3 separate regions of the Homo sapiens genome follow, and all the other regions are linked to region 2. Evidence: fine-mapped expression QTL. A gene starts in region 2. Each other region holds a variant in brackets. All regions are shown on one strand. Distances are from middle to middle.

The links. PIP is the estimated chance that this variant, and not a neighbour inherited with it, causes the effect.
Region 1: its variant is fine-mapped to the expression of PPARD in whole blood (TOPMed, PIP 0.91).
Region 3: its variant is fine-mapped to the expression of PPARD in whole blood (TOPMed, PIP above 0.99).

What each region holds. Positions count from the first base shown.
Region 1 is chr6:35,415,134-35,417,633 of GRCh38, forward strand. All of the region lies in intron 3 of PPARD (peroxisome proliferator activated receptor delta), which reads left to right. Among named protein-coding and RNA genes, the nearest start is that of FANCE, 36 kb to the right of the region's middle. The variant A/G (reference allele first, on the strand shown) is at 1,047.
Region 2 is chr6:35,341,248-35,343,747 of GRCh38, forward strand. It overlaps PPARD (peroxisome proliferator activated receptor delta), which reads left to right and starts at 1,311. Exons shown (of 8, transcript NM_006238.5): 1 at 1,311-1,434. RefSeq lists silencers at 1,163-1,372, 1,553-1,692, 1,723-1,772.
Region 3 is chr6:35,388,699-35,391,198 of GRCh38, forward strand. The region is part of intron 2 of PPARD (peroxisome proliferator activated receptor delta); the gene reads left to right. Among named protein-coding and RNA genes, the nearest start is that of PPARD, 47 kb to the left of the region's middle. The variant C/G (reference allele first, on the strand shown) is at 1,218.

The DNA.
Region 1 (2,500 bases), 74 kb after region 2:
GGCAAGCACTTGGTGGGCATCAGGCTGGGCCCAGCACTGTGCCCAGGGCTGGCCATACAGTGGTGGACAAGGCTGAGTGCCTGTCCCAAGGAGCCCACAGTTCAGGCAAACAGGACAGCAGAAGTAAAGAGGCTGCTCAGTAACCCAGCCTCAAATCCCTGCAGAATTTGGCCTGACTTCAGAAGCTGCTGGGTGCTTGTTTGCCTGTGAGCTCTGCCAGCAAAGTAAATAGACCAATCGGGCGCCTCCTGGCTGTCTTCACAGCCATGACAACGGCATTCTCCCAGCATTGGAGGCTAGATATGCAGGAGAGCTCTCAGCCACAAATGATGTGAATAAGGTCAATAGTGTCTATTTGCTGAACTTGTCATCAAAGATGGTGAAACTGATACTTTACTCTCTGGGTGAGAGGGCTAGTGTTTACACTGAATCCAAACATTTGGATAATGACATGGTGCCTCCTCAGCAGTGACTGTGTCTTCTTGTTCATCATAATAATGTTATTGATTAGCGGTACTGAACATGTAGGTATGCGTAGTAGTGAGATGCCGAGGTTAAGAGCTCAGCTCCAGGAATTGCATGGTTCTAGGTTATAATTCTTGCTCTGTCACTGTATTAGTCAGGGTTCTCCAGAGAAGGAGAACCTGTGTGTGTGTGTGTGTGTGTGTGTTGAAAGAAAGAGATGTGTTTTAACGAATTGGTTCACACAGTTGTTGGAGTGGCAAGTCCAAATTTTGAAAGGCAGGCAGGCTGGAGAGCCGGGGAAGTTGATGTTGCAGCTCAAGTCCAAAGGCAGCCTGGAGGCAGAATTTCCTGTTCCACAGTGGGGCCACGGTAGGCACTCAGTCTTTTTTCTTAAGGCCTTCAGTTGTTGGATGAGGGCCACTCACATTATGGAGGGTAATCTGCTTTACTCAAAGTCTTCTGATTTAAATGTTAATTGCATCTAAAAAATATCTTCTTAGTGGCCGGGCACAGTGGCTCATGCCTGTAATCCCAGCACTTTGGGAGGCCAAGGTGGGTGGATCACCTGAGGTCAGGAATTC[A/G]AGACCAGCCCAGCCAACATGGTGAAACCCCATCTCTACTAAAAATACCAAAAAAAACTAGCTGGGCGCCTGTAATCCCAGCTACTCGGGGGGCTGAGGCAGGAGAATCGCTTGAACCCGGGAGGCAGAAGTTGCAGTGAGCTGAGATCGCGCCATTGCACTCCAGCCTGGGGAACAAAAGCGAGACTTCATCTCAAAAAAAAAAAAAAAAAAAAAAAAAAAAAAAAAAAACACCTTCTTAGCACATTGTTTGGTCAAACAACTGGGCACCGTGGCCTAATCAAGTTGATATGTAAGACCAACATAGCCGCTGCCAGCAAGTTACTAACACTTCTGAGCCTTGGAGCCTCGGCTTCCTTGCCTGTAAAGTGGGGGTAAGAAGACCATCTTGAAAGGTTGTTTTGAGGTTTTACGTGAGATGAAATGGGTGTCCAATGGAGTGCCTTTAGCAGGACACCTGCTTACCCCCACCTCTACCCAGGACATCATGATGCGGGGGAAGTGGTGGAACCTTCAGAACCCAGCCCCTAGTATGAGAAGAATTCTGCCATCACCTTTCTTTCAGCAGAGAGGGAAGCAGTCCCCTTCCGTGACAGTCACATGCGTGAGTGATGGCTCCTTCCAATATCCTGCACTTCTTACTGCCCCTTACCTGGCGTTGCTCCACTCTGTCTCATGTTCTAGTTTTCTTATCTCTTTCTCTTTTTTTTTCTATTTTATTTTTTTCCTGTAGGCACAAGTGAGTTACAGTAGGTTAAGTTACACCTTACCTTTCCTTGTTTTTCTTGTTTATTTATTTGTTTATTTATTTTTTTGAGACAAGGTCTTGTTCTGTCACCACAGGCTGGAGTACAGTGGTGCAATCACAGCTCACTGCAACCTGGACCTCCCAGGCTCAAGTCATCTTCCCACATTCAGGCAATCCTCCCACCTCAGCCTCCCAAGTATCTGGGACTACAGGCATGTGCCACCACACCCAGCTAGTTTTTAAAATTTTTTATAGAGATAGAGACAGGGTCTCACTATGTTGCCCAGGCTGGTCTCAAACTCCTGGGCTCAAGTGATCCTCCCGCCTCAGCCTCCCAAAGTGTTGGGATCACAGGTGTGAGCCACTGCACCTGGCCTTTTGTTTTTTTTAAGTAGAGACAGTCTTGCTTTATCACCCAGGCTGGTATACGATGGCACAATCACAGCTCTCCTAGGCTCAAGGATTTTCCTGCCTCAGCCTCCTCAGTAGCTGGCACTATAGGCAGGTGCCACGACACCCAACTATTTTTTTTTTTTTACTTTTTATAGAGACAGGGTCTCACTATGTTGCTCCTGGCCTCAGGTAATCCTCCTGCCTTGGCCTCCCAAAGTACTGCGATTACTGGCGTGAGCCACCACACTCAGCCGAGTGCAATGGCGCGATCTCAGCTCACTGCAGCCTCCGCCCCCCTGCCCCCGGGTTCAAG
Region 2 (2,500 bases):
TATGTTAAGGGAGGGACTCTGACTTTCACCGTCCATTTTTACCTCAATCTCAAAGGGCAAGGAGGTTGACATCTAAGTTACAAATATAATGCACAAGCATTTCAAAAAGTAGGGGAAAAAAAAGAAAAAGAAAAAGAGAAGCAGAAAGAAGGGGGAAAAAATCACTCATCCCTGCCAGGCACGGTGGCTCACGCCTGTAATTCCAGCACTTTGGGAGGCTAAGGTGGGAGGATAACTTGAGTCCAGGAGTTCAAGACCAGCCTGGGCAACATGGCAAAACCCTGTCTCTACTAAAATTACAATAATTAGCTGGGCGTGTGGCGCATGCCTGTAATCCCAGCTACTTGGGAGGTTGAGGCAGGATAATCGCTTGAACCCGGGAGGCGGAGGTTGCAGCGGGCTGAGATTGCGCAACTGCACTCCAGCAGGGGCGACAGAGTGAAACTGTGTCTCAAAAAAAAAAAAAAAAAAAAAAATCACTCATCCAGATAGCTAGGTGTGGCCTAAGGAGCTTGCGGCCTACGGAAGGTGTGGCCGAAGGAGAGGGGAGGGGTCATCTTTAATGATGATGGAGGGGAGGCATTGGTCATATACCTGAGAGTCAAGCTTTGTTCATCGTCAGATGAAAGCCAACTTCTTCCACCAGATTGCCTCCCAGCTGCTAGGTAGTTTCCTGTGGTACATCTTAAGCGGTAGGTTGGGATAATAGGTCCCTTCCAGGTCTTAAAGATGTGGATTAATAAGAACAGAATTTTCTACAACAATAAGGAGGATGTCCCCTATTTTAGGTGAATAAGCGTATTGCATAAGCACATGGGAAGAAAGGTTAAGAACTCTAAGACCGTAAATTTCCAGTTGTAGAAGCCTCTTGAAGGCGGAAAGCCCTTTTTTGAAAATTATAGGCGATATGATCTCCTCCAGTGGACCTAGCACTGGGTTAAGAGTCTCTCCAGACTTGTCACTGCAAGTCACGTACCTTTTCTAGGACTAAGTTTCTTCACTGGAAGATGAGGAGGTTGCACTAGATGACCTAGAAATTCCCTTCCAGCTTTAAATTCCCTCTTGTGTCACTTGCTGGACTTGTTCTACTGGACCTGGCGCTCCCCTGCTCCTCCCTTAGCTGCTACGTCCGCATCCCGCACCAGAGGGCGCCACAGGCTGGCCCGGGGCAGCGTGCGGTGGGCGGAGAGGCAGAATTAGGGGAGTCTCCAGGAGGCGTGGTGATTGGCCGCCGCCGGGCGGAAGGGGGCGTGGGGAGGGAAAGGCCGAGCAGCGCGGTGACGTCTCGCTGGCGGGGGCGGGGCCGGGCCGCGGAGCGTGTGACGCTGCGGCCGCCGCGGACCTGGGGATTAATGGGAAAAGTTTTGGCAGGAGCGGGAGAATTCTGCGGAGCCTGCGGGACGGCGGCGGTGGCGCCGTAGGCAGCCGGGACAGGTCAGTCCGAGACGAGAGAAGCGGTCAGGCAAGTGGCGGAGGGAAGCGCCGGGCCTGGGCCGAGGCGGCCAGCGGGACTGGGGCGCAAGGCCCGGCGGCGGGGAACGGGGTGCGGGGAGCTGCCGGGGTCCGCGGACAGCGTCACGGCGGCTTCCTGATGCTCCGGCCCGCTCCGGTCAGCCGTCGTGCGTTGCCATGTAGGCGCCCCGCTGACCCTGCGCCCCCCCGCCCTTGGACCCCCATAGCTGCTTGAGTGAGTCCGAAATACGGGCCTCCTTCCACCCTACTCTTTGCCCCCTCTTGGGCCTGGTGGCTTCGTCTTCTCCCACTTGTGAGAACCCCGTCTCAGGCCCGGGGGCCTCTCCCATTCCCCTCCCCTGCCTCTGACCTCTTCCTTCACCCGTTTCTGGTGTTCCTGAATCCACTGCCCTATCTAGCGAGAGTCTTCTCTGGGATCTTTTCCTCTGTCCCCCTCGTTATCCTTGTCTCCTGCCTTCATCCTCCCATCCTTGCTCTCTCAGGCTTTACTCTCTCTCCCCATCCCTGTCCCCTTCTTATCTGTGGTCTGATCCCTCCTAGTATTATGGGTCCCCATCCTCTTCCCCAGGGTGTTCCTAGGCTTTTTCCAACTCCGTGCCTGCAGTCCCTGTCTCCCTAAGACTCTCACCTTGGTTCCCTGAGAGGCCCTGTTTTTGCTCCTTTTTCCGATTTCCTTCGTATCAATTCTGTCCCCTACATTCCTGTCGCCCACCTCCTTTTCTCTCCCTGTTCCTTTCCCCTGCTTCAGGGAGAAGCCTTAGCTCCACACTCTACTCTACTTTCACTTGACCTGCAGTTGACATAACCATGGGGTGGGGGTGGAGGTGTTCAGACCTTGATCGAATTAAGAGGCTGATTGACTAAAGGAAATAACAGATTGTGTGGGAGAATGTACGTGGGTGTTGCATCAGAGATGATGTCCAATTTGTAGGCCATTCTTCTTATCTCAGCTTTAATACTTCCCCTTTATGGGGCTGTTGACTTCCAGGAACCCTTGGGGGAGACGGCGCTGAGCTGGATGTGTGCC
Region 3 (2,500 bases), 47 kb after region 2:
GAGACTCTGTCTCAAACAAAAGAGGGGAAGGTAGGAATGAGACAAAGGAAAAGGGGAGGCGGGCATTTCAGGCAGGAGAGCAGCATAGGCAGAAGGTGCAAACATGTGGCAGAGGGTCGGTGTCCATGGACACGCTTCCACCACCTGGTCTAATCATTGACTTATCAGACATCTAAATGCCTGCTGCGTGCCCAGCACTGTAGAGGGCCACAAGGCAGCAGGAACCTCTCAGTGCCTGCCCTCTGTGGGCTCTGACTCCAACCAGGAGAAACTGGACGCACAACAGCAGGCAAAACTAGCTGATGGTGATAGAGGTCAGAAGAGTGGTTTACAGCCAGGCACAGTGACTCACACCTGTAATCCCAGTACTTTGGGAGGCTGAGGTGGGAGGATAGCTTGAGCCTAGGAGGCTGAGGCTGCAGTGAGCTGTGATCAGGCCACCACTGCATTCCAGCTTGGCCTGGACAACAGAGCAAGACCCTGTCTCAAAAAAAGCGGAGTAGTTACTTATTGTGGAGATTAGCTGTTCAGGGGCACAAAGAACCTTGTAGGGTGCTGGAAATGTTTACTGTCTTGACCTGGGTGATGGGTTTTTTTGGTTTGTTTTTTGTTTGTTTATTTTGTTTTTTTGAGATGGAGTCTTGCTCTTGTGCCCCAGGCTGGAGTGCAATAGCACTATCTCGGCTCACTGCAACCTCCACCTCCTGGCTTCAGGCAATTCTCCTGCCTCAGCCTCTCGAGTAGCTGGGACTACAGGCGCCTGCCACCATGCCCGGCTAATTTTTGTATTTTTAGTAGAGACAGGGGTTTCACCATGTTGGCCAGGCTGATCTTGAACTCCTGACCCCAGGTGATCCGCCCGCCTCGGCCTTCCAAAGTGCTAGGATTACAGGCGTGAGCCACCGCGCCCAGCCTGGGTGATGGTTTTATGGTGGTATATAAATGTAGGAATTCATGGGGCTTATTATGTTTAAGATTAATGCAGATTGCATACTCTAACCATGAGTATGTTATACCCCAATTATAAATCAAGCAGGCAAATAAATAGCATATTCCCCAAAATAAAGAAGTAAAATGCAATAGCAAGAAAGTGTGCAAAGAGCTATGCCTGGGAAAATACAGGAACTGTATCATTTTGAAAGGGTGAGAGATGAGATTTCAGACCCTCACCCTCTCTCACTGTGTCATTTCTGAAGGGCCCTGGTGACTTTCTTTGC[C/G]CCTCTCCACTCTTACAGTCATTGGAACCAGAGGGCAGAACCCCGGGCCTCAAAATTAAGTCTATACACCTTAGAAACTAGGAATTCAAGGCTAGCCAGGTCCTGGCCCTTTATCTGTCCTTCAGAGAGTGGGGTGCCCCAGCCAAAGCGGACAGCTCGCCATTCCCAGATGTGCCCTGTGTTCTCGGCTGCGTTGCCTGACTCACCTTGGCCTTCCCTGGGAGTGCCTTTTCTAGTTTTCTGGCCCAGCTAGAAGAAAGGGCCATTACACCTACTCCAGAATCATCCCTGCTGCTCCCAAGTTGGAATATTTCTTCCTCCACAGTGGCCACCTCTTATGTGCCCTCCATCACACAGTTTGTATACTTACCTCTTCAAGGGCAGGCTGTGTTTTACTCCTTTTGTCATCTCTCCCCATAGGGGTCTAGGTCAGTGCTTTTGTACATGGTGCCTGAAACAGTCCCATAAATGATATTTTATTTGAGTGGGGCTCTCTGGCTGGAGCTACTAGGTGGAATGTTGCCATGTGGGAGCAGGGGTCATAACGAAGGCTGGCCATCAAGATGCTGGTACTTCCAAATTCCCAACAGTTATTAACTTTCAGGATTGAGGAACAAGTAATAGAAATTCCCTGGAATGCCCAAAATCATAACTTTTTCTATATCTTTCCTAACACTTTATGAGTTTTTAAATAAGGAGTGGTCATAATAATAAATGGAATTATTTTTTCTGTGATAAAATTTCAGAGGTGTTTCTGTAAAAAAAAAAGAAAGAAAAGAAAAAGAGAAAAAAAGATGTAACATTAAATGCGTGGTTTGGTGGTTTGGTTGGGCACAGTGGCTCACACCTGTAATCCCAGCACTTTGAGAGGCCAAGGCAGGAGGATGGCTTGAGCTCAGGAGTTTGAGACCAGCCTGTTAACAGAGAAAGATTTTGTCTCTATTAAAAATAAAAAAAATTAGCCAGCATGGTGGCATGTGCCTGTAGTCCCAGTTACTCAGGAGGCTGAGGCAGGAGGATCACTGGAGCCCAGGAGTTTGTGGCTGCAGTGAGCTATGATAGCACCACTCCGGGTGGTGACAGTCTTGGTGACAGAGTGAGACCCCATCTAAAAAATTAAAATAATAAAAATAAAATAAATGCATAGTTTATTGTTATTATGGACAAATATATTGTGATATATGATTGTATATATTTCATTAGCATGTAAAAATGATCTCTATCTGATATAGACATCTGATAATAGAAAATGCGGAAGAGAGCATTAACACAAAATGAATACC